Linked DNA regions of Homo sapiens: regions 2, 3 and 4 are each linked to region 1. Evidence: fine-mapped expression QTL. A gene starts in region 1. Each other region holds a variant in brackets. All regions are shown on one strand. Distances are from middle to middle. Region 1 holds the start of VCPKMT (valosin containing protein lysine methyltransferase). Region 2 overlaps SOS2 (SOS Ras/Rho guanine nucleotide exchange factor 2). Region 3 overlaps SOS2 (SOS Ras/Rho guanine nucleotide exchange factor 2). Region 4 overlaps SOS2 (SOS Ras/Rho guanine nucleotide exchange factor 2).

Region 1 (6,058 bases):
TTATTGTCACTTACCTACTATTATAATTAAAATACATAAATTTCTGAAATGTATACACAAAGCAAGATAAAGAGTTAGGACCTAAGACTTAAATTAAAACATCTCATATATAAAAATATTAAACCCAGCCCTGAATTAATCTAGGAGTACTCATAATCTGATAATTAACCCAGATTAGTTTATTTTGAGCCTCTGAATTTAACTTGACAAGTAAGAATTTTTCAGACTTAAAAATTTTTTTTTTTAATTTTTCAGAATAGAGGTATAATTTAATTACTTTTTTTTTTGAGGGAAATATGAAATCTGATGATGATCCTCCTGCTATTCCACCGAGACAGCCTCCTCCTCCAAAGGTAAAACCCAGAGTTCCTGTTCCTACTGGTGCATTTGATGGGCCTCTGCATAGTCCACCTCCGCCACCACCAAGAGATCCTCTTCCTGATACCCCTCCACCAGTTCCCCTTCGGCCTCCAGAACACTTTATAAACTGTCCATTTAATCTTCAGCCACCTCCACTGGGGCATCTTCACAGAGATTCAGACTGGCTCAGAGACATTAGTACGTGTCCAAATTCGCCAAGCACTCCTCCTAGCACACCCTCTCCAAGGGTACCGCGTCGATGCTATGTGCTCAGTTCTAGTCAGAATAATCTTGCTCATCCTCCAGCTCCCCCTGTTCCACCAAGGCAGAATTCAAGCCCTCATCTGCCAAAACTGCCACCAAAGACTTACAAACGGGAGCTTTCGCACCCCCCATTGTACAGACTGCCTTTGCTAGAAAATGCAGAAACTCCCCAATGACCTTAGCCATATGTAGTCATTGACACTGGAATGGTATTTGTAAAGTTTTTTTTTTAATTTATTCAAAAAAAGACATAGTATTTTAGTACTTTTTACAAATAATGCTCTTACAAAAATGCTACTGATCAAATAAGCTTTTAAGAATTGGAAAAATAAAAATACAAAAGTCCTTCACCATTATCCTCAGGTGATCAGTAGCATTGCCTTGTCTTGGATCCTCAGTGCTGCCAAAAGGCCAGTATAAAGAATTTATATTTGCACTGTAAACTCTGCAAAAATATGGTTTAAAGTGACATGATTGCACTGAAAAGGGATAGTGCTTTTGTGAAATTTTTCAAATTTGAGTAATAGATGCCTTTTTAAGGCAGTGAATTTACACAAATATGGGAGGGGTATATGGTGTTACTGATTTTTAAACCTCTTTGACCATCTTCTAGTTTTTACTTCTAGTTTTTACATCTAGGAGAATTGTGAATAACACCAACTGTTCTTAAACTCTTTAATGCCATGTCTTAAATGCCGGTATTTGCTGCTGAAGACAAAAATGAAAAGTAGGATGAAAATAATAGAATGGCACTGTAAGTGTTTATTATTTTGTCAAAATGTAAACAAAGACTACATAACCCAATGATGGAGGGAAAAAGGGCATGTATCTCATTCAGATGTGCCTTTTGTTTTTGCAGACTATGACGTCTTTAGCTAATGAATTGCCTATTGTTATGGAAAACAGTTAATATGCCATGTATGTACAGTTTTGTTTATATTGTATATTTAAAGATACTGCTAATAACCTATATAAATTTAAGTGACTTGAGGCCTATAATACAATCTGCTACTTTACTAATTCATAAATTCAAAAAAAATTCTATGGCATAGGAACCAACTGCCTTGCCTTCAAGACCTAGTAACTTTCTCTATAAATCTCGTGTTAACTGAAATTTTTTTTAAATATATTTTTTAGATTGGTAATATTTAAACCAGCAAATACTTAAAGCTTTATTAAACATTTTAATCAGATAAGTGAGTAAAGCTTTTATTTGCCATTTGGATGCCTTCGTTCAAAGTGATAGAGTGTTTTGCTGATAGTGCTGTAGCAGCAGTTGTAAAGTAGCCAAAAGCCACGTTGTTTATTTACTGGTTTGTGGCCTTTTACTGTGCTTTGTATCAGAGTTCTTAACAAGATTAATAAATCACCCCAGTCTTAATTTTTAAAAGACTTTTAAAATATGTGTTTTCATTATAAGGAACAAAGGGGGAGATTGTTGAGTCCTATAGACACACACACACACACACACAATTTTTTCTTCACTGTTAAATGTGAGCTGCAGGCTTCTAGCAACCACTTTTATGAATTCATACAAAAAACTAGGAGCATACTAGGAACTTGAAAAGGAAGATTGTAAGATTATAGCCATCTTTGGTAGGATCTTGGAAGCTGATTGCATTTAAGCCTTGTAACTACTATGTAAATCAAGTGTCCAACTTGGTAAACTCTGAGGTTGGCTTTGTTTTTTAAAGAGCAGATTATAATAGTTTTGTCTGGGAAAGTGATTTAAACGGCCTCTTCGTTAAGCCAAACGTGTGATTTAGGGTAGAGGGAGGCTGCCAAGCGCGTCGGGTAAGCAGGGGCCCCACGCTCGGCCCCGCCCAGGTAACGCTGCCTTCCGGGCTTTGTTAACTCGCGCGCGCTGCGTCGCCAACTCAGCGGCGGGCAGGGGGCGGAGCCGCAGGGCGGGGCGGTGCGCGTTGATGTGACGTCCCTGCGCGCGCCGCTTTCTGTTGCCGGGCGCAATGGCGGATACGCTGGAGTCCTCGCTGGAGGACCCACTGCGGAGCTTTGTGCGAGTTTTGGAGAAGCGGGATGGTACAGTGCTACGACTACAGCAGTATAGCTCCGGTGGCGTGGGTTGCGTTGTGTGGGACGCTGCCATTGTCCTTTCTAAATACCTGGAAACGCCCGAGTTTTCTGGCGACGGGGCCCACGCGCTGAGCCGGCGGTCGGTGCTGGAGCTGGGTTCGGGCACCGGGGCCGTGGGGCTCATGGCTGCTACCCTCGGGTAAGAGCTGGCGGGCGGGCGGGATGTGGGGGCGCCTTCTTGCTGGGGAAATCCGGATTACAGGCTTTCCCCCCTGTGCCTACACCTCAGTCGACGTTATTTTATAGGGCTGATGTTGTAGTCACCGATCTTGAGGAATTGCAAGACTTGCTGAAGATGAATATTAATATGAACAAGCATCTTGTCACTGGTTCTGTTCAAGCCAAGGTACTGAAATGGTTTGTATGGCCTTTCAGCTTGTTTTAAGATATTGATTTGTAGTTTGTTTTGAATTGCGTTTCATTAAAAGGATGGAAGGGGACTTTCCGGTTCTTTATAAAACAAGAGTATTTTGAATTATTAAAACAATTGAAATATTTGTTTGGCATTTTTAAGGGGGGAAGAAATAGAAGGCTTTCCTTCTCCACCCGACTTCATACTGATGGCCGACTGCATATACTATGAAGAGGTAAGTATCCAGTGAGCGAAGTCTCTTCACTTAGAAGATGAACCTTATTCCATGAATTCTAAAGCACACGTTTCTTCACATTTTAACATCTTTGAATCCGGGATTTGCCTTATAGTTGATGCAGTAAAGAGAAGATAAAAGTCACCAGGGACCATATGTATATACGCTCATCATTATCATACCGACCTGGTGAAGCATGTTGAGAAAAGTGTTATATGCATTTTACTAGAGGCTTCTGTAAAAATTTTAAAGGATTTTGCCAATTGGATGTTATGAAAAGCCAAAATCCTCTCTTTTTCCCTTGGTTGTTCCCACGGAACATGTTAACCATGACATTGAGAATTAAGTTATAAATAATTCATTGTTCTTTTCTTTAAATACCAGTTTGGGCCGGGCGCGGTGGCTCACGCCTGTAATCCCAACACTTGGGAGGTCAAGGCAGGTGGCTCACCTGAGGTCGGGAGTTCGAGACCAGCCTGACCTACATGGCAAAACCCTGTCTCTACTAAAAATACAAAATTAGCCAGGCGTGGTGGTGCATGTCTGTAATCCTAGCTATTTGGGAGTCTGAGGCAGGAGAATCGCTTGAACCTGGGAGGCGGAGGTTGCAGTGAGCCGAAATCATGCCATTGCATTCCAGCCTGGGCAACAAGAGCAAAACTCTGTCTCAAAAAAAAAAAAAAAAAAAAAAAACATCAGTTTGTATAGTGTTGTGGGCATCGATTATTTTAAAAATAATTAGCATTGAACCAAGTTAGGGTCAGATTTAACTTTTGTAGGGAAATCGTTGATTATTTAAATCCCAAATTAGATTAAATAAAATTAAACTTTTAAGAGTAAGGTTGATTCCATTTGTTTCCCATGAGAACTCCAAAATGCAGTCATCTGAATCCTTTTTCTGGAAACCAAAATCAGTACATGGTTTAGTTAACAGGAGCTTACCCAATCATTAGTTACAGAGGGGTTTTTGTTTGTTTGTTTTTGTTTTAAGATAGGGGTCTTGCTCTGTCACACATGTTGTAGTGCAGTGGAGTGATCATAGCTCACTGTAACCTCGAGCTCCTGAGGCTCAAGTAATCCTCCCATTCAGCCTCCTCAATAGCTGGGACTATAGGTGTGCACCAGCATGCTGGCTAATTTTTAAATTTTTTGTAAGGTGTTGCGGGGGGTGGTTTGTCTCTCGCTGTATTCTCCAGGCTGGTCTTCAACTCCTGCTTTCAAGCGATCTTTCCACCTCTGCCTTCCAAAGTGTTGATATTACAGGTGTGAGCCACTGCACCTAGCCTAGAGCTTTAATTACATGTGCTTTGTTGGATTGATTCAAAGATGGATAAATTGTAGGGGAGCTATAAATACCCCTGTACCTCCTCAACCTACTTTTAGAGTAGAAAAATTTTTAAATCAAAAACAAAAAATATATTCTTTTTTAAATAGTCTTTGGAGCCATTGCTGAAAACTCTAAAAGATATCAGCGGATTTGAAACTTGTATTATATGTTGTTATGAACAACGAACAATGGGGAAAAATCCAGAAATTGAGAAAAAATATTTTGAGGTAAGTATTAAGTACTCTATTATCTTTGTAGTGATTTCCCTTCAGGGGGGCTGTATGTGACTCTTCAAGTATATTATGGTAATTTTGGGTGGGGAAAACATGCTGTTTGTGTGAAGCTGAGGAAAGGATCTTCACAGCCCATGATTCTACGAAGCTCCCCTTTTTCATCTTTTCTGATACTTTATTTCATTTCTAATTAGTTGATCTATGGCTACAGAAGAATGTTAATACGGGTGCCACTCCTTTTTAAGAACAGTTTTCAGTGTTTATTAAACATGATGCTGCCTTTGGGGAACATCTCAATGATGTATGTATTACCTTTGGAGAATACGTGATAGAAATGTGCAGGTGATAAGTTGTTTTTGTTTTGAGACAGGGTTTCACCCTGTAGCCCATGCCGGAGTGCAGTGGCACAGTCAGGGCTCACTGCATCCTCAACCTCCTGGGCTCAAGTGATCCTCCTGCCTCAGTGTCACCCCCCCCCCCCCCCGCCCCCAAGTAAGTGGGACTATAGGCATGTACCACCACACCCGGCTAACTTTTTGTATTTTTTTGTAGAGATGGGGTTTTCCCATGTTGCCAAGTGATAAGTTTTTACTTCTGTGTTTTTCTCTACATATTTATGAAACCTCCAACCTAGATACCTGTCTATTTTTAGGGTCTTTTTTTTTGTTTTTTAAACTTTTTGTCTGAAATAGTTAGAAAAGACTTACAGGAAGTTGCAAAATATAGTATATAGGGTTTTATGTATCTGTCACTCTTCTTCCCCTAGTGATCACCCAAACCCTTATATGGGCACAAATCTATCACATTGTGAGTGACTCCTTTTGAGGGTACATCTATATAGGCCTGCAGTTTTGTCTGCTGGAAGGACTACTTTGGTTTAATGAGAAAGCAGGTATATGACTGCCTCAGGTAACAAATACTAAAATGTTTGTTTATTTTCATGTTTTTCTTGAATATGAAAAATGTTCATGAACTTTTGAAATGATGCATAATGAAAATTTCGTACTGTTAAACAGCTTTTATTGGGGTAAAGCATATGTAAAATGCATATGTATCAGTCAAGTGCTGAGCTTAATTTTTCATATGTATACACCCAAGTAACTACTTACCAACATAAAGATAGAGGACATTTTCAGGATCTTGGAAGGTTTGCACACTGCCCTTTCCCAGGCAATACTCAAAAGGTAACCACT
Region 2 (6,058 bases), 20 kb before region 1:
TTCTATGTGATTTTTAAATTTAGAATTAAAATATTGTTGTGTATGATTGAAATTGAATGATTTAAATCAAGTTTTGTCAACTTCAACAATTTTGGTATTTTGGGCCAAATAATTCTTTGTTGTGATGGGCTGTCGTGTGCGTAATAGGATCTGTAGCAGCATCCTGGCCTCTATTCATTACACTCCAATAGCACCCTGGAGTTGTGGTAACCAAAAATGTCTCTAGACATTCCTAAATATCCCCTGGGGGACTAAATTGTCCCCAGCTGAGAACCACCAATTTAAATGAATCAGCAATTACGCATGAAAAAGGGACTAAAAACTTTTTTATTGTTCATGAATGAGAAGTAATTATTTTTCTATCTAAATTACAGTCTCTGAAAAAACAGAATTAGTTTATAAGCCTATAGACTTATTAACCAAAATTGGCTTAAAATTAATTTATTAATAATCACCTAAGATACTTGGCATTAAATATTTATAATCAAATATTAAAATATTTGGTCAGAATAGATTTAACACAATTTGCACTTGGTGAAATTAGAGTTTAGAAAAGCTTAATTTGCCATTTCTTAGATTAGCAGCCTTTATTTTTGTACAAGCCAGTAGCTTTTATTTTCTTTTTATTTTAAATTCTTTCTCTTTAAAAAATGCTTAATGGAGAGTTAATGATTGTTTATCAGAGACTTAACATTTTAGTAGTAGAGTTGCTGAATAGTATAGGATGTCTTTCAACTTTACTAGATCAGTTGTTTTCCCAAATAATTGATTAAATAACAAAATTTAAAATAACTTTTCTTTAAATTCTTTTTTTTTTTTTACTAGGAATATATTTAACAAATATTCTGAAGACCGAAGAAGGGAATAATGATTTTTTAAAAAAGAAAGGGAAAGATTTAATCAATTTCAGTAAGAGGAGGAAAGTAGCTGAAATTACTGGAGAAATTCAGCAGTATCAGAATCAGCCTTACTGTTTACGGATAGAACCAGATATGAGGGTAAATATTTTCTTTGCATATCTTTAGAAGAGAACGTGTTAATGGGTACCAAAAAAAAAAAATAGAATGAATAAGACATACTATTGGATCGCACAACAGGGTGACTACAGTCCATAATAATTTAATTGCAGATTTAAAAGTAACTGTAAGAGGCCAGGCACTGTGGCTCACGCCTGTAATCCCAGCACTTTGGGAGGCCAAGGCGGGCGGATCGCTTGAGATCAGGAGTTGGAGACCAGCCTGGGCAGCATGGCGAAACCCCGTCTCTACTAAAAATATAAAAAAAAATTAGCTGGGCATGGTGCTGGGTGCCTGCAGTCCCAGCTACTCAGGAGTCTGAGGTGGGAGAATCACTTGAGCCTAGGAGGGGTAGGTTGCAGTGAGCCGAGATAGCGCCACTGCACTCCAGCCTGGGTGACACAGTAAGACTTCTGTCTCAAAATAATAATAGTAGTAATAACTATAAGTATCGGCTGGGCATGGTGGCTCACGCCTGTAATCACAGCACTTTGGGAGGCTGAGGCGGGAGGACCACTTGAGGTCAAGAATTTGAGACCAGCCTGACCAACATGGTGAAACCCTGTCTCTACTAAAAATACAAAAAATTAGCCGGGCATGGTGGCGGGTGCCTGTAATCCCAGCTACTTGGGAGACTGAAGCAGGAGAATCATTTGAACCCAGGAGGTGGAGGCTGCAGTGAGCCGAGATCATGCCACTGCCTTCCAGCCTGGGTGACAGAGGGAGACTCCGTCTCAAAAAATAAAATAAAAAATATTAACTATAAGAGTATAATTGGATTATTCATAATACAAAGGATAAATGCTTGAGGGAATGGATACCCCACTCTCCATGATGGGATTATTCTACATTACATGCCTGTATCAAAACATCTCTTATACCCTACAAATATATACACCTATTATGTACCCATGAAAATTAAAAATTTTAAAAATTAAAAAAAAATTTTAGATCTTGTGTGACCTGTAAGAAATATCATAATTATTTGTCTTGCTATGAAAATAATAGAAAAAAATTAATCAGTAGATAGCATGTTAAACATTAGACATTCTACACTATCTGCAGTTGTTAATATTGTTACTAAGTACTTTCTTTTGAAAGTATTGCTTCTTTGTGTAGTTGGTTCAAGCTACACCATAAAAAGTGAATGACAAAGTAGAATGATGTCCATGCAGTAAAAAGAAAATTCATTTCTAGATTTGATAGCCATTTTAGATAATGTTACATGTAGCAAAATAACGTTATATAATTCATAAGAACAGTGTGTTTAAATAGGAAAAGGGTCAGCAAAGTGGTATATGTATGCCTGGCAGAAGATGATTTTTCTAACATCCTGTCGATTGATGTTCTATTTTGAGCAATAGTGTGTAATATTGATACTATAGTACTATAAAATATGAAACAACCTTCTAAATTAAACTATGATATTATGTTTATGCTAAATGAATGTTATTATATTATACTTGAACTTGGGAACATATTATAACTATCAACCAGAATAAGTTTACGTGTCATATTAAAAACTGCGCTAAACTTTTTAGACATAATCTGCATGCAAATTGGGCATATTGAGTGAAAATATCCACCATTACTTCCACCCTCCTAAATTATGAGATAGAAACTTCTTTGTTCCCGGTTCAAAACAAAGTACCCTAAAGTCCTAAGAAAAAGACCACCTAAAGCATACCATTTATAAAAATGATAGGTCGGGCACAGTGGCTAATGCCTGTAAATCCAGCACTTTGAGAGGCTGAGGTGGGTGGATCACCTGAGGTCAGGAGTTCAAGACCAGCCTGGCCAACGTGGTGAAACTCTGTCTCCACTAAAAATACAAAAATTCGCTGGGTGTGGTGGCACGTGCTTGTAATCCCAGCTACTCAGGAG[G/C]CTGAGGTGGGAGGATCGCTTGGACCCAGAAGGCAAATGTTGCAGAGAACTGAGATAGAGCCACTGCACTCTAGCCTAGGTGACAGAGCGAGACTGCATCTCAAAAAAAAAAAAAAAAGATACTTGCTCTTAAAAAAAATAAAGGTGGTAACCTACTGATGGTGACCTATTTCATCCCCTCTCACCATTGAACCCGCCCTCTGTGATGTGGGGCTTCGGAGAGCTAAGGAAATATGGTCCCCACAGGAATAATGTTACACTTTAATTCGGTATGCTTGAAATAGTACTTTTAGTATTTATATCTCAGAACCATACCTGCTAATTGGTGTTTGTGGTGTGGTCTAGGGTTCCTACCACCATTTAAAGCATTTTTGGGAGGAAGTGTCTTCTATATGATTGAGTCAAACAAAATAAATTTAAAATGTAGACAAAGTAGCTATTCACTTTTCAAATCATACTTAAATAAATAGTATTTAAAATAGAGCAAAGGATGAGGAAATCAAGAATACTGCTGTTATAGCTTTCTGAAAGCCTTTAATTACTAGTGGCTAATATTTAATTTAGCTAACCTGAACATAAGAACACATTGTTTCAGTATTGTTAAAAGAGTAATACAATTTTCTTGAAATTGGCAGAATGCCTTAAAAATGGGAAGAATTTTATACTAGAAATTTTAAAGCTCATTTTGCCTACTGCTAAAGCTAAAACCTAGTACCATTTTTATATATGCTTCTAAACCACTTCAAAATTAAATAAAGCTAAATCCAGTAATTTGCTGCTAAGGAATTTTTCTAAGGAAATCATAAAAAATGTACAGAAAAATTTATATATAGGAGTTAATAAAAATAATTATTATAATAGCAAAAAATTAGAAAGTACCTATATGGATAACTAGCTATATGGAGATTATTACATTCTGAAATATCCATCTGATGAAATACTATAGAGTTAAAATTTGTATTTTGTAAAATAAGCAAACTGGCTGGGTGAGGTGGCTCATACCTGTAATCCCAGCACTTTGGAAGGCTGAGTGAGACTCCATCTCAAAAAAAAAAAAAAAAAAAAAAGCAAACCACATTGAAAAAAGTTAATTGAATATAAACTTCAGAAAGATTAAAATTGATATCCCAGTTTTTCAGGAAAATATATATATAAATTATTAATAATTATATATAAATACATATATACATGCATATATTTACATGCACAGTAAAATCATTGGAAGATAGTCTAATATTTAAATGTAAACAATGATATTTCTGGTTTGTAAGATTACTGTTTCTTTTTCTTTTTTTCTCTTTTTTTGGCAGTGCTAAATCACCTGAATTTTCTACGTTAAAACTTAAATTTAAGCTTAAAATATTTTTTGATAAAGACAAAAATTTTAAACATTTTATTTATTAGGCTTTTTTTAAGAGGAGAGGTCTCACCATATTGCCCTGGCTGGTGTCAAATTCCTGGGCTTAAGCAGTCCCCCGGCCTCAGCCTCCCAAACTGCTAGGATTACAGGTGTGAGCCATCATGGCTTGGCTCAGATAAAAACATTTTTTATACTAGAAGTTAGCACAGATAGGTTTAACTTTATAATCATTCTTTCTTTCTTTCTTTCTTTCTTTCTTTTTTTTTTTTTTTTTTTTTGAGACAGTCTCGCTCTTGTTGCCCAGGCTGGAGTGCAATGGTGTGATCTCGGTTCACCTCAACCTCCGCCTGCCAGGTTCAATTGATTCTCCTGTCTCAGCCTCCTGAGTAGCTGGGATTACAGGCATGCGCCACCACGCCCAGCTAATTTTGTATTTTTAGTAGAGATGGGGTTTCTTCATGTTGGTCAGGCTGGTCTCAAACTCCCGACCTCAGGTGATCCACCCACCTCAGCCTCCCAAAGTGGTGGGATTACAGGCGTGAGCCACCGTGCTCGGCCTATAATCATTCTTGACATTACTTTTAAAGTAATTTAAATGACTACTTTTAAAGTAAAAGGAATTTCCAGAGTAATTATAAATGATCAAGAATGATCTATAAATTGGATTAACAGACCTTAATCTAATTTATCTCCACTTTTTTTCTGATTATCAAAACTTCATTGTGGATTATAACCATAGCTTTGTTCTAAACACTTTTGGTAGCTTACTAGTGATGATCATTTGTTACAATGAGTAGGAGTAAAGTTTCCTAAGGAATAAGTAGTGCTACTGCTGAGCCATTAAAATGATAATAAATGAAAACTCATATTCTTAATAGAACTTTAAGACTAGAATATAACTTCCACAGAAATTATATAATCTTATTCAGAAGTAAAGAGATTGGAATAAGCAACACTTGTGAACTTTTCACATATTGTGGGCTCTTAATGTGTTATTTTTTAGCATTAAATAAGTAATTTTCAGCAAAAAATTTTAATGAGATCTTATTTTAATAAGATCTAAAATATATACTTACTATATATGCACTTGTGTTATTTGTTTAATTCCAGAGATTCTTTGAAAACCTTAACCCCATGGGAAGTGCATCTGAAAAAGAGTTTACAGATTATTTGTTCAACAAGTCACTAGAAATTGAACCTCGAAACTGCAAACAGCCACCTCGATTTGTAAGTCTTTTATAATTTCGGGAACAAGTGTTCTGTTTTTTAAAATATTATTTTCAATGTTTAACAACCTGTTATCTTAAAAATGTAATTGAATGGCTGTTCCTAGGTGTTTTGTTTGCAGTAATATACTATTTCTAAAACTGGGGGGGGAAATGTCAGCCTTTTGATAAAATCTGGTTTATGCCTTATCTTGGTACTACTTATTTATGTGTCTACTTTTGATCCCTCCTAGAATAATACAAAAAGGTGTGAGAAAGTGAGAACTTAATAGGTAGCTGAATGGAACAGAAAAAAAAAGAAAAGACCTGGGAAGGAGTAAGCAAATGTATTTTGGTTCTTGTGACTTGATATGACTTCTGCCATTAGGGCTCCATGGTCCATAGTTGCCTCTGGAACCCATCTCTGTCACTAGAATTTGATGCTACAATTTCCAGTTACTGCAGGAGTTTGCAGTGGCAACAGAAGTAGTAGAAGATGAACTCTAAGTAGCTAAAAGTGAAGCAAGATATAGAAGGAAGTAAAAACACAAACCAACTTTAGGTGAAGCAGGAAGTCAGGTAGTTTCATGCTA
Region 3 (6,058 bases), 66 kb before region 1:
AGTGTCAGATCTCACAGATTAAGGACTCAGTCCCAACACGACTGTCTCACACTTCAGGCGCCAATTGAAAGTCCCAGGTTGTGAACTGTGCTCCGAACTGATCAGTTATAAATTGGAGTTCCCATGACCCCCTCCTTGGGTTCCATTAATTTGGTCGAACAGCTCACAGAAATCAGGGAAACACGTTTACCAGTTTATTATGAAGGACTTTAAAATGATACAGATGAAGAGATGGACAGGGCAAAGTATAGGGGCACAGAGTTTCCAAGCCCTCTCTGGGCAAGCCACCCTCCTAGCACCTCCACAAGGTCTGCAACCAGGAAGCTCATCAAGAGTTTTTATGGAGCTTGATCTCTAGCCTCTCACCCCTGCCCTTTTTTTTTTTTTTTTTTTTTTTTTGGAGACAGGGTCTGGCTCTGTTGCCCAGGCTTAAGTGCAGTGGCACCATCTTGGCTCACCATAACCTCTGCTTCCTGGGCTCAAGCAGATCCTCCAGCTTCAGCCTCCTGAGTAGCTGGGACTACAGGCACATACCACCCCACCCGACTAATTTTGCATTTTTTGTAGAGATGGGGTTTTGCCATGTTTCCCAGGCTCTTTCCCCAATTTTTTAGAGGTCAGTGGGTGGGGCTGAAAGTTGCAACCCTCTGATCCTTTTTCTTTTTCTCATGAGTCAGTTTGGTTTCAAGTAACCCTTCAATCCTCTAATCATCTGGTCTTTTTGGTGACTGGCCCTATCATGAGGTTATCTAGGGGCCCTACTGTAAGTAACCTCATTAGCATAAACTCAGTATTTATCAAAGGTACTCATTATGAATAACAAAAGACATTATTATCACTCAGGATATTCTTAGCGTTTTAGGGGCTCTAAGACAGGAACCAGGGACAAAGACCAAAAATATGTTTCATATTATACCACATGTGGTGGAGCCAGGATCCAAGCTCAGGTCTGTCAGGTTCCAAAGCCCGTGATGTTTCCATTATAAGATGCCAGAGTGAATAATAGTTGGCCATAACCGGGATGGTCAGTCATATGATGTGTTTGTGTTCAGAGGGCTTGAACCTGTCTTATCCTAGATATATGGCTATCTGCCACATATGATGTTTTAGTCAGTGATAAGACTATAAATACCCATATATATGACAGTAATCCTGTAAGATTATACTATATTTTTACTGTACCTTTTCTCTATATAGATATGTTTAGATACACAAATACTTAACATTGTGTTACAGTTACCTACAGTATTCCATACAGTAACATGCTGTACAGGTTTGTAGCCCAGGAGCAACAGGCTATACCTATATGGCCTAAATGTTGTAGTATATCATCTAGCCGTGATATTTGCACAATGACAAAATCGCCTAACAGCGCATTTCTCAGAACATACCCGTCTTTAAGCAGTGAATGGCTGTAATTCACAGACGGGAGCTTGGATGAAATCTGTAATTCCTTCTCAGATCCAGGAGATGGGCCCTAAATTGTGAAACCAGATTGTAACAGGATTAGGAGTTATCTTCATTCTCATCCCAGCTCTTACCATTAATCTATAAGACTATATAGCCTAAGCTATAAGTAAAACCTAGGGCTCTGTAAGACCTTGATCAAGTCTTTTAGCATCTCAGCCAGTTTTAAAACACTCAAATGCCAGAATTCTTTATGTAAAAAGTAGCTTAGAATCATCCACAGTAGGAGGTTTTAGATTTAAAAAAACTATCTAGAATCTATATTTTGTAGTATTTTTATTGTCTGTTATCCAAGAGATTTTTAAAATTCTCTTCCTGTTCATGATTGATTTTTACTGTCTTGGAATATATTAATTTGAGATTCAATGAAGATATACCCTTAACTCTTATATTGTTTCTTTTTTTTTTTGTACAAGCAAGTCTCTTTATTTCCAAAGTACGTTGACCTCTCCAACCCAAGTTAAAAGAATACACAGTATGATTCCATCTTTTAATATATTAACATCAAGATGTACATGTTTGAAAATGGTTGGAATTTTATACTGGAATAATGCATACTAAACTATTAATAGTTTCTACCTCTGAGGGTCATGGGTGTAAGGGGGGCATGAAAGTAAACATTCATATTTTACTCTCTCTGTCTTGTGTTTGAATCTTTTATAATGGGAGTGCATTCACATGTAATAACTTTTATTTTTACAAAGAATGAGTTTTCCCAAGAGCAAAATGCAAAAATTCTGCTATAGCTTGTTGACATTTAATGGAAATATATTGCTTTATATAATATATGAATTGTTCAGAAGTGATAATAGCTTTAATCATGCTCCCAATAAAAGATATGCTAGTTAAAGAAATTCTATAGTTTATTCCATAAATTTAAAAACATGTAGAAAACGAGTACCACCCATAAATTAAATGATGTATTTGGTGCAGGGCAGGTAAGCCCCAAAGTTGGGGCTTAGCTCGGGACAGTTCTTGGCTTTGTCTAAGAAAGAAGTCAAAGGCATGACAATGGTAGGAACCTCTGCTGAAGCGGCAGCGTACAGCAGCAGCAAAAGTACTGTTTCTTGTGGAGCAGGGCTATTCCATAGGCAGTCTGCCTCGAGTAGCCTATATTGCTCTTTATATTTAGTAATTTTTTAGCAGAATTCTCAATCTCACATTTCTTAACCTTCCTTCTCTTTTTTCAGGATATCGAAAAGATTTTTAGTAACATTTCAGATATACATGAATTGACTGTGAAACTTTTAGGTTTGATTGAAGACACAGTTGAAATGACTGATGAAAGCAGTCCTCATCCCTTAGCTGGCAGCTGTTTTGAAGATTTGGCAGAAGTAAGTTTACAAAACTACTTATATTCTCATTAAAGCCCTAAATGCTGTAGTAAGAAACTTAGAGATGAGTCTTGGCAACATAGTGAGACCCC[G/A]TTTCCATAAAAAAGTAAAATAATTATCCAGGCATGGTAGTGCCCATCTGTGGTCCCAGTGACTCAGGAGGCTGAGGTAGGAAGCCTGGGAGATCAAGCCCATGATTGTGTCACTGCACTCCATCCTGGGCGACAGAGTGAGACCCTGTCTCCAAAAAACAAAATTTTTTTGTAAGATATTCTTTATGAAAATTAGAAGATACCACTGGCCATTATAAAAAGATATTTAAGATTTAACTGATAACAAACTAAAATCACATTGCCTATATAGTGACACTTTCTTTATAGTGTGTTTATGGCAATATTTATAGTGAAAGTTTATATACTAGAGTAGTATATAAACTAGAGTAGTAACATTTAGGTTTTTTTTTTTTTTTTAGTGGTAAGTATATTCAAGATGAAGGAAGATACATTTTATTGACCATAGCTCTTTACCTTCTATGGATTTTAAACTTAAAGTTGGAAAGAAGCTTTATATTATTTTAATGTTTTCCAAAGTAAAAATCATTTTATCTTTTAAATGACTATAAAAATAATGTAGCTCATTGTAAAAATATTCAGAAAAATAGATATATAAATTAGATGAAAGTCACTTTATTTTATAACACCCAGAGATAACTTATCCTTATATATTTCTGTGCATACATACGAATGTATGTGTGTTTGCAAAAATAGGATCCCACTATTTTATAACTTACTGTTTTTACTCTGTATATCATAAACATTGTCCATGTTAATGTATATACTTCAACACAATTTTTAAGTATAAATAATGTGATGTTATATGGAGACACCATAACATATTTTAACTATCTATTATCCATAGGTTGTAGAGTTTTTTCCTTTTTTTTTTTGTTATTGTAAACAACACTGCAACAAACATATTTGCACTATGCCTTGATATTCTAATCATTTTTTTTTTTGACATGGAGTCTCCCTCTGTCACCCATTCTAGAGTGCAATGGCACGATCTCGTCTTACTGCAACCTCTGCCTCTCAGGTTCAAGCCATTCTCCTGCCTCAGCCTCCTGAGTAGCTGGGATTACAGGCGCCTGCCACCACGCCCAGCTAATTTTTTGTATTTTTAGTAGAGACGGTGTTCCTCTCTGTTGGCTAGGCTGGCCTCGAACTCCTGACCTCATGATCCGTCCGCCTCGGCCTCCCAAAGTGCTGGGATTATAGGCATGAGCCACCGCGCCCAGTCATATATTCTAATCATTTTTAAGGATATATTCCTGGAAGTGGAATTGTAGTGCTAAAGACTAGATACATTTTTAGAACTTGGAAACACTTTGCCACGTTCACTTCCAGCTAAGTTCCAGTGTATGTAAGCTTCCTTCTTTCTTCACCCTTTCCCTTCACTAACTCGGTATTACCTTATTCTTTTTCTTTTTAATTCTTTTTTTCAAAATTTGTTTTGTTTTCATATCGGTTCTGCAGATATCCCATTAATTTTTGCCAGTCTAATGGGAAAAGAAATCTTTCTTCTTCTCTTCTCTTTTTTCTTTTCATTTCTTTCTTTTCTTTTGAGACAGGGTTTCACTCTGTTGCTCGAGCTGGAATATAGTGGCACAATCATAGCTCACTGTAACCTCGAACTCCTGGGATCAAGTGATAATAATCTGTACCATATTGGTAGAAAATATATTCTTTTAAACCTAATGCTTTTTCTCTTTTTAAAAAAATAGGAGCAAGCATTTGATCCTTATGAAACATTATCACAGGACATTCTTTCACCAGAGTTTCATGAACATTTCAATAAATTGATGGCCAGACCTGCAGTTGCTCTACACTTTCAGGTAAACTTAAATTGAAGGTTTTTTTTTTTTTTTTTTTTAATAAAGCAAATAAATATCTCACTATTTTATCCTTCAAATATTTGTAATTCTGGAATCCTCGTAATCCTTCAAATCTTGTTCATTCTAAACCTGTTTTGGATTATCTTCTGTTTTCTCTCTGGAGTTCTGTCTGTTCTTATTGTAGAAATCTTTTATAGTACAACATCATGAGTACTGAATGACCAGAAGAATTTGGCACATACTAGATCTGGGGTATAAAGATGAATTTGGCTGGGTGCAGTGACTCATGCCTAGAATCCCAGCATTTTGGGAGGCCAAGACAGGTGGATCACTTGAGGTCAGGAGTTTGAGACCAGCCTGGCCAACATGGTGAAACCCTGTCTCGACTAAAATTGCACAAGTTAGCTGGGCGTGGTGGTGAGCTCCTGTAATCCCAGCTACTCAGGAGGCTAAGGCAGGAGAATCACTTGACCCGGAAGGCGGAGGTTGCAGTGAGCCGAGATCGCGCCACTGCACTCCAGCTTGGGTGGAATAGTGAGACTCTGTCTCAAAAAATAAATAGAAAAATAAATAAAAAATAAAGATGAATCTGGAGTGTGATTTCAGGATTATGTTCCCTATAGGAGGAAGATTTGGAGAAATCTTAAAAAGTTGAGATAACCTCAACCTCCTATGTACTCATACTGATTTTTCTATGAGGCCTACAATTTAAAGGAGATAAATACTGTATTGAGGGAGAGTATGCAAGTTAGTTGGTTCAGGAATACACTTAGATAAAATGAAAATAAGTGGAGAGATACAAATAAAATTTTATTTTTACTATCTCAACACTAACAACAAAAGTTATGTTGGCATAGGTAATACTTGGCTAAATATGTAAAACTTCTACATCTAAACTGACTTTTCCAGCCAGACGTGGTGGCTCTTGCCTATAATCCCAGCACTTTGGGAGGCTAAGGTCAGAGGATTGCTTGGACCCAGGTGTTTGAGACCAGCCTGGGCAAAATAGGGAGACCTCATCTCTACAAAATATAAAAACTTAGCCGAGTGTGGTGGCGTGCACCTGTGGCATGCCAGGAGAATTGCTTGAGCCTGGGAGGTCAAGGCTGCAATGAGTCATGATCACGCCACTGCACTCCAGCCTTGGGTACAGAGTGAGACCCAGTCTCAAAAAAAATAAAAATAAAAAATAAACTGGCTTTTACCCCTTGACGTTTGAATATGGTAAAAATCCTTATAGTCCTGAAACAAACAAGCAAACAAATGAACAAACCTTTCTTCACTCTAGTAGAATAATTAACTAGAGTGAAGAAAGTTTTTTCATTTCCTCTCTCATTTTTTCTTTGCAGCCAATTGTCTTTATATT
Region 4 (6,058 bases), 35 kb before region 1:
CTTTTGAAATGAAATAAGAGACTGTAGTATATGTGTAGATTACATAGAAATTTGATGATAGGCTGGGTGCAGTGGCTCACGCCTATAATCCCAGCACTTTGGGAGGCTGAGGTGGGCGGATCACCTGAGATCAGGAGTTCGAGACCAGCCTGGCCAACATGGTAAAACGTCGTCTCTACTAAAAGTACAAAAATTAGCCCAGCATGGTGGCGGGCGTCTATAATCCCAGCTACTTGGGAGGCTGAAGTAGGAGAGTCACTTGAACCTGGGAGTTGGAGGTTGTAGTGAGCTGAGATCGCACCATTGCACTCCAGCCTGGGCAACAAGAGCAAAATTCCATCTCAAAAAAAAGAAAGAAATTTGATGATAGCACTTGCATTTAGAACCAGATACAGTACATCTTAGTTGGTTTTCCATTTTAAGTGAAAAAGTACCAAAATTTAAATCTTAAAAATGCTTTTTATGAACTTAAAATAGCTTTTGTAATATAGAGCATAAGTTTTCTACATATGAATAAAGGGTACTTTTCCTTAACATAAATGGGAAGCACAGAAACCACTATTTTTATGCTTATAAATATTTTAAAAGTATACATTTTATTAATAAATAATACACCGTTTGGAGACCTACTCTCCTCTTGTCATTGAAGCATTTAAAGTATTAATTAAATACAGATTAGAGAGTCTTTGAGTATTATGTTGACCCTTGTATGTAAAGCTATTATCGTGGCATTAGAGAAGGAAGAAGTGTAATTGAACACTTATGTTTCACTAAAATGTGTTTCTTTCCATTTTATCAGGATCTTAAATGTATTTCGGCATTGGGTTGAACATCATTTTTATGACTTTGAAAGAGACTTGGAATTGCTTGAAAGACTAGAATCCTTCATTTCAAGTGTAAGAGGTATATTATATAAAGGTTTGATTGAATCTTATATTGAACATGAGTTTATGTTCAAATTTGTGTGACTTTAAGAAACTAAAACATTTCTCTCTCTTTTTTTTTTTTGAAACAGAGCTTTGCTTTGTTGTCCAGGCTGGAGTGCAGTGGTGCCATCTCAGCTCACTGCAACCTCCGCCTCCCAGGTTCAAGTGATTCTTCTGCCTCAGCCTCCCAAGTAGCTGGGACTACAGGCACATGACATCACGCCTGGCTAATTTTTGTATTTTTAGTAGAGATGGTATTTCACCACATTCACCACAAGACCAGCCTGGTGTCTTGAACTCCTGACCTCAGATGATCCACCTGCCTCAGCTTCCCAAAGTGCTGGGATTACAGGCATGAGCCACCATGCCTGGCCAGCATTTTTCATTTTTAAAAAGCTGAAATAACATTTGGAATGTTTTTTATAGACAGCAAGAAACTCACATATGTTTAGACCAATCATCTGAGGTCTCAGAACTTTGCCTTTTCAAGTTTTTGAGGAGAATATTTCTTTTAAAGAAGTCGAAAGTTCTTTTTAATAAATTTAAGCTATTTAATTTTATCTCATTGCAAGGTTGCCATTTCTTCAACTGAATAAAAATATGTGTAATTTTATGTTTTCTTTCTTTAATCTTATTCTTTTAATGATTAACAGCTTTCTTATAATATTTACATCTTCTGGAAATGTTTTTGGTATATTTCTGAAATCTGAAAGAGAGGAGTTTTCTATTTTAAGTTTCAGAATCATAGCCCAAGAAATGAAACCCTAGGCCATGAACATTTAAACAAATGTGTCATCAAATGTATATTATTGAATCAAGAACATTTATGTTTTATCTGACATTATAGGGCATTACAAATACTATAACAAGTGTAACTTATTTCGTGTTCTACTTGTTCTTTAAGGGGAATATTATTTAAAGTTAAGAATGTTATTCCTTTGTTTCTACTTTGAGATGTTTATGATACATTTTTATGTGTGCCTTGAAATTGTCATAATACTACATTTTCAAGTTGTATTCTAGGCCAGTGCAATGGCTCACACCTAGAATATCCCAGCACTTTGGGAGGCAGAGGCGGGCTGATTGCTTGAGCCCAGAAGTTTGAGACCAGTCTGGGCAAAATGGCAAAACCCAGTCTCTACAAAAAATATGAAAATTAGCCAAGCATGGTGGCATGTGCCTGTAGTCCCAGCTACTCGGGAGGCTGAGGTGAAGCGATCACTTTTAAGCCCAGAGCTCGAGGCTGCAGTGACCCGAAATTGCAACACTGCACACAAGCCTGGGCAGAGTGAGACCCTGTCTCAAAATAAACAAAAAACAAAAATTTATATTCTAAATGAGAATACTGGATTAGACACAATCTAAGAAGCTTCTAAAATACACACACACATTAGAATAAATTAAGTAAATGGTTATGTTAATGTCCAAAGTTCTTTTCTATACTAGTTATACTTCAGAATAACCAAATAGTTCATGAGGAAAAGTTTATTTTTGTGGAAGTATTTCAGCTAGTAAGTGAAGAAGGAATGGTAGAATATCACATTTCTCAGGTCCTAGTAAAATAATAAACCTAGGGAATTATCATGACTGGATGGGTACTATCACAAAAAGTTAACTAGACATTATATGCCTCCTGTTAGAAGTATTCTTGGCAAGTATTTGTGTCATAAAATTAATCCTGAATCAGACCAAGTCACTATATCTCTGCTTTACAGAAAATATAGAGGACAGAAAAACATGGCAAATGACAATTTCTTCCACAAAGTGCAAGCAAAAATATGCAATAAAGCAGTAACCTGTAGATTAAAGGAGACTTGAGACACATTGACTCAGTGCAATATGTGCAATCTTGTTCAGATCCCTTTTCAAACTAAATATAAGAAAATATGGCCAGGCACAGTGGCTCATGCCTGTAATCCCAACACTTTGGGAGGCCAAGGCAGGCAGATCACTTGAGCCCAGGAGTTCAAGACCAGCTTGGGCAACATGGATAAACCCTATTTCTACTAAAAATACAAAAATTAGGCCAGGCGCGGTGGCTCACGCCTGTAATCCCAGCACTTTGAGAGGCCAAGGCAGGCAGATCACGAGGTCAGGAGTTCGAGACCAGCCTGGCCAACATGGTGAAACCCTGTCTGTACTAAAAATACAACAAAATTAGCCAAGCATGGTAGTGTGCACCTATAATCCTAGCTACTCAGGAGGCTGAGGCAGGAGAATCGCTTGAACCCGGGAGGTGGAGGTTGCAGTGAGCCGAGATCACGCCATTATTCTCCAGCCTGGGTGACAAAGTGGGACTCCATTTCAAAAAAAATACAAAAATTAGCCAGGCGTGGTGATATGTGCAGTCCCAGCTACTTGGGAGGCTGAGGTGGGAGGATCACTTGAGCCCGCAACATGGAAGTTGCAATAAGTTGAGATTGCGCCACTGCACTCCAACCTGGGCCACAGAGCAAGACCCTGTCTCAAAAAAAAAAAAAA[AG/G]GAAAATAATCAGAGAGAGAAATGTGAACAGTGACAAAATACTTCAAGATAACAATGTATTAAGAAGTTGTCAGTTTTATGTGTGATAATGGTGTTGTGGTTATTACTTTAAAGAGTGTTTTAAAGGTGCTTAAATATGAATGAAATACGATGTCTCGGATTTGTTTCAGAATAACCTAGGAAGTGACGGGATGGCATGAGTAGGGTTAGAGAAAATAAAAATTGGCCATGAGTTGGTAACTGTTGAGGCTGGGTGAAAGTTAAGGATTAAATGAAGATTTGCAGTCATGTCTGTCAAGTAAAAGACATTTTTCTTTATGTGTTCTTTTTCCAGGGAAAGCTATGAAAAAATGGGTAGAGTCAATTGCTAAGATCATCAGGAGGAAGAAGCAAGCTCAGGCAAACGGAGTAAGCCATAATATTACCTTTGAAAGTCCACCTCCACCAATTGAATGGCATATCAGCAAACCAGGACAGTTTGAAACATTTGATCTCATGACACTTCATCCAATAGAAATTGCACGTCAGCTGACACTTTTGGAGTCTGATCTTTACAGGTAGACAATTAATGTTAATGTCTTGCTTTATTTTTAAGAATCTTGAACATTACCTATTTTCAAAACATTTTGCACATTATTCATGAGTGCTTAAAAATACCTCATCTACTCTCATGGGCTTAGAGGAAAGGTCATAGCACAGTTTTTAACTAGTCTGCCCTGCAAGTAAAAGTCTTATGTCTAGACTGGGGACTAGCAATCCATTACAAGAGGAATGGCAGGAAGATTTTCAAGTCCACCACCCCTCTTCAACTCCTAATACCTTCTCACCTTGGTTTAGTTTGAGGTCAGTCAGTCAAGTCAGTTAGTATGGATGCTAGGCCCTTAGCAGCTAAGTGAATAGAATATTGTGTGAGATGGGTTTTCTTTTCTCATTTACAGCTCAGGCTGTTGCGAAGGGTACAGGCCTTGCATGTAACAGCTCTCTGTCGAAAAATGTCACTATCATTATCATTCCATCAAAAACTTTTTCTACACCAACCTCTCTGTTTTCCCCTCCTCCCAATCCTTCCCAGCCACTAATACCTGCAGTTCTACTCTCTACTTCCATGAGTTCATTTTTTTTTTAGTTTTCATATATGAGTGGGAACATGTTATATTTTTCTTTCTGTGTCTGATTTATTTTGCTTAACATAAGGTCCTCCGGGCTCATCCATGTTGCCTTGAACGACAGGCTTTCATTCTTTTTTTATGGCCGAATAGTGTTCCACTGTGTATATATACCACATTTTCTTTATTCATTAATCTGTTGATTCCATATCATAGCTATTGTGAGTAGTATAGAAGCCTCAATTTAAAATATAAATGTGCTTGGCTGGGTATGATGGCTCATGCCTGTAATCCCAGCACTTAGGAGGCCAAGGTGGGCAGATCGCTTGAGACCAGGAGTTCAAGACCAGCCTGAGCAACATGGCAAACTCCGTCATACAAAAACTACAAAAAATAGCCAGGCATGGTGGCTCGTGCCTGTAGTGCCCCTGTAGTCCCAGTTGCCCAGGAGGCTGAGGTGGGAAGGTCACTTAAGGTCGAGGCTGCAGTGAGCCAAGATTGTGCCACTGCACTCCAGCTTGAGTGACAGAGTGAGACCCTATCTCTAAAATAAAAATATTTTCATGGAGTTATCCTGATTAGCAGCCAATTTTTAAATAAAGATTACACAGGGAAAAGCAAGAATATATAAAATTTAGTGCTAATAGGTAATATAGTAAGGTACCTTTACTACATTATGTTTACTTTATGTTCTTTAGAATTTGCCTAGTTTGCACTGGCCATGCCATTCAGAACCAGACTTTTAGCGCACCCACCAGAAGTTGTCAACATCTGACTCAAAATGTTATGTTATATTTTAAGTAATTTAGAATCCAGGTAGCTTTGTTTATGTTGTGGGATTTGTGATACGTAGAAATGAAGGGACTTGTTACTTGAGGTAAAAAAAGCAAATAGTACTGCATCATGTTTTTTCTCACAATGTAATTGTTTTACATGAATGGACATCAGAAAAAAAGCACTTCACTTCATGTGGACCTACTTTCAGGACATAGAAAAATACCTAATACTGACTTCATTTGTAAACTAAATTTTTTTTTTTTTTTTTTTTTGAGATGGTGTCTTGCTCTGTCACCCAGGCTGGAGTGCAGTTGTGCAATCTCGGCTCACTGCAACCTGTGCCTCCCAAGTTCAAGTGATTCTCATGCCTCAACCTCCCGAGTAGCTGGGATTACAGGTGTGTGCCACCATGCCCGGCTTTTTTATATTTTTAGTAGAGATGGGGTTTCACCATGTTGGCCACAGTGGTCACGAACTCCTTACCTCCAGTGATCCACCCACCTCAGCCTCCCAAAGTGCTGGGATTACAGGCATGAGCCACTGCACCCAGCTTTGTAAACTAAATTTCTGGTGAAATAATAGAGCCACTTTAAGAAAACATTTCAGAAACTGTTAGCAAGTACTTATTTATACACAAATCTACTGATTAAAAAATATTTTTTTAATGAATAACCAAGTCTGTAGGCCATTGATGGCAATGCCACCAGTCAATTAAAAAGAAAAAAAAGAGATAGGGTCTCACTGTGTTGCCCAGGCTGGCCTTGAAC

Evidence for each region. PIP is the estimated chance that this variant, and not a neighbour inherited with it, causes the effect. A credible set is the group of variants that fine-mapping cannot tell apart.
Region 2: its variant is the best candidate, but not a certain one, in a credible set for the expression of VCPKMT in blood mononuclear cells (TOPMed, PIP 0.54).
Region 3: its variant is the best candidate, but not a certain one, in a credible set for the expression of VCPKMT in unexposed skin (GTEx, PIP 0.88).
Region 4: its variant is the best candidate, but not a certain one, in a credible set for the expression of VCPKMT in whole blood (INTERVAL, PIP 0.55).

What each region holds. Positions count from the first base shown.
Region 1 is chr14:50,113,086-50,119,143 of GRCh38, reverse strand. VCPKMT (valosin containing protein lysine methyltransferase) reads left to right here and starts at 2,572. Exons shown (of 6, transcript NM_024558.3): 1 at 2,572-2,857; 2 at 2,965-3,075; 3 at 3,233-3,305; 4 at 4,740-4,859. The coding sequence starts at 2,592. SOS2 (SOS Ras/Rho guanine nucleotide exchange factor 2) reads left to right here. Exons shown (of 23, transcript NM_006939.4): 23 at 291-2,014. The coding sequence ends at 800. RefSeq lists an enhancer at 2,576-2,635.
Region 2 is chr14:50,133,552-50,139,609 of GRCh38, reverse strand. It overlaps SOS2 (SOS Ras/Rho guanine nucleotide exchange factor 2), which reads left to right. Exons shown (of 23, transcript NM_006939.4): 18 at 826-998; 19 at 5,371-5,487. Among named protein-coding and RNA genes, the nearest start is that of VCPKMT, 20 kb to the right of the region's middle. RefSeq lists an enhancer at 1-676. The variant G/C (reference allele first, on the strand shown) is at 2,901.
Region 3 is chr14:50,179,206-50,185,263 of GRCh38, reverse strand. It overlaps SOS2 (SOS Ras/Rho guanine nucleotide exchange factor 2), which reads left to right. Exons shown (of 23, transcript NM_006939.4): 6 at 2,658-2,801; 7 at 4,582-4,692. Among named protein-coding and RNA genes, the nearest start is that of SOS2, 49 kb to the left of the region's middle. The variant G/A (reference allele first, on the strand shown) is at 2,894.
Region 4 is chr14:50,147,915-50,153,972 of GRCh38, reverse strand. It overlaps SOS2 (SOS Ras/Rho guanine nucleotide exchange factor 2), which reads left to right. Exons shown (of 23, transcript NM_006939.4): 13 at 800-903; 14 at 3,743-3,965. Among named protein-coding and RNA genes, the nearest start is that of VCPKMT, 34 kb to the right of the region's middle. The variant AG/G (reference allele first, on the strand shown) is at 3,408.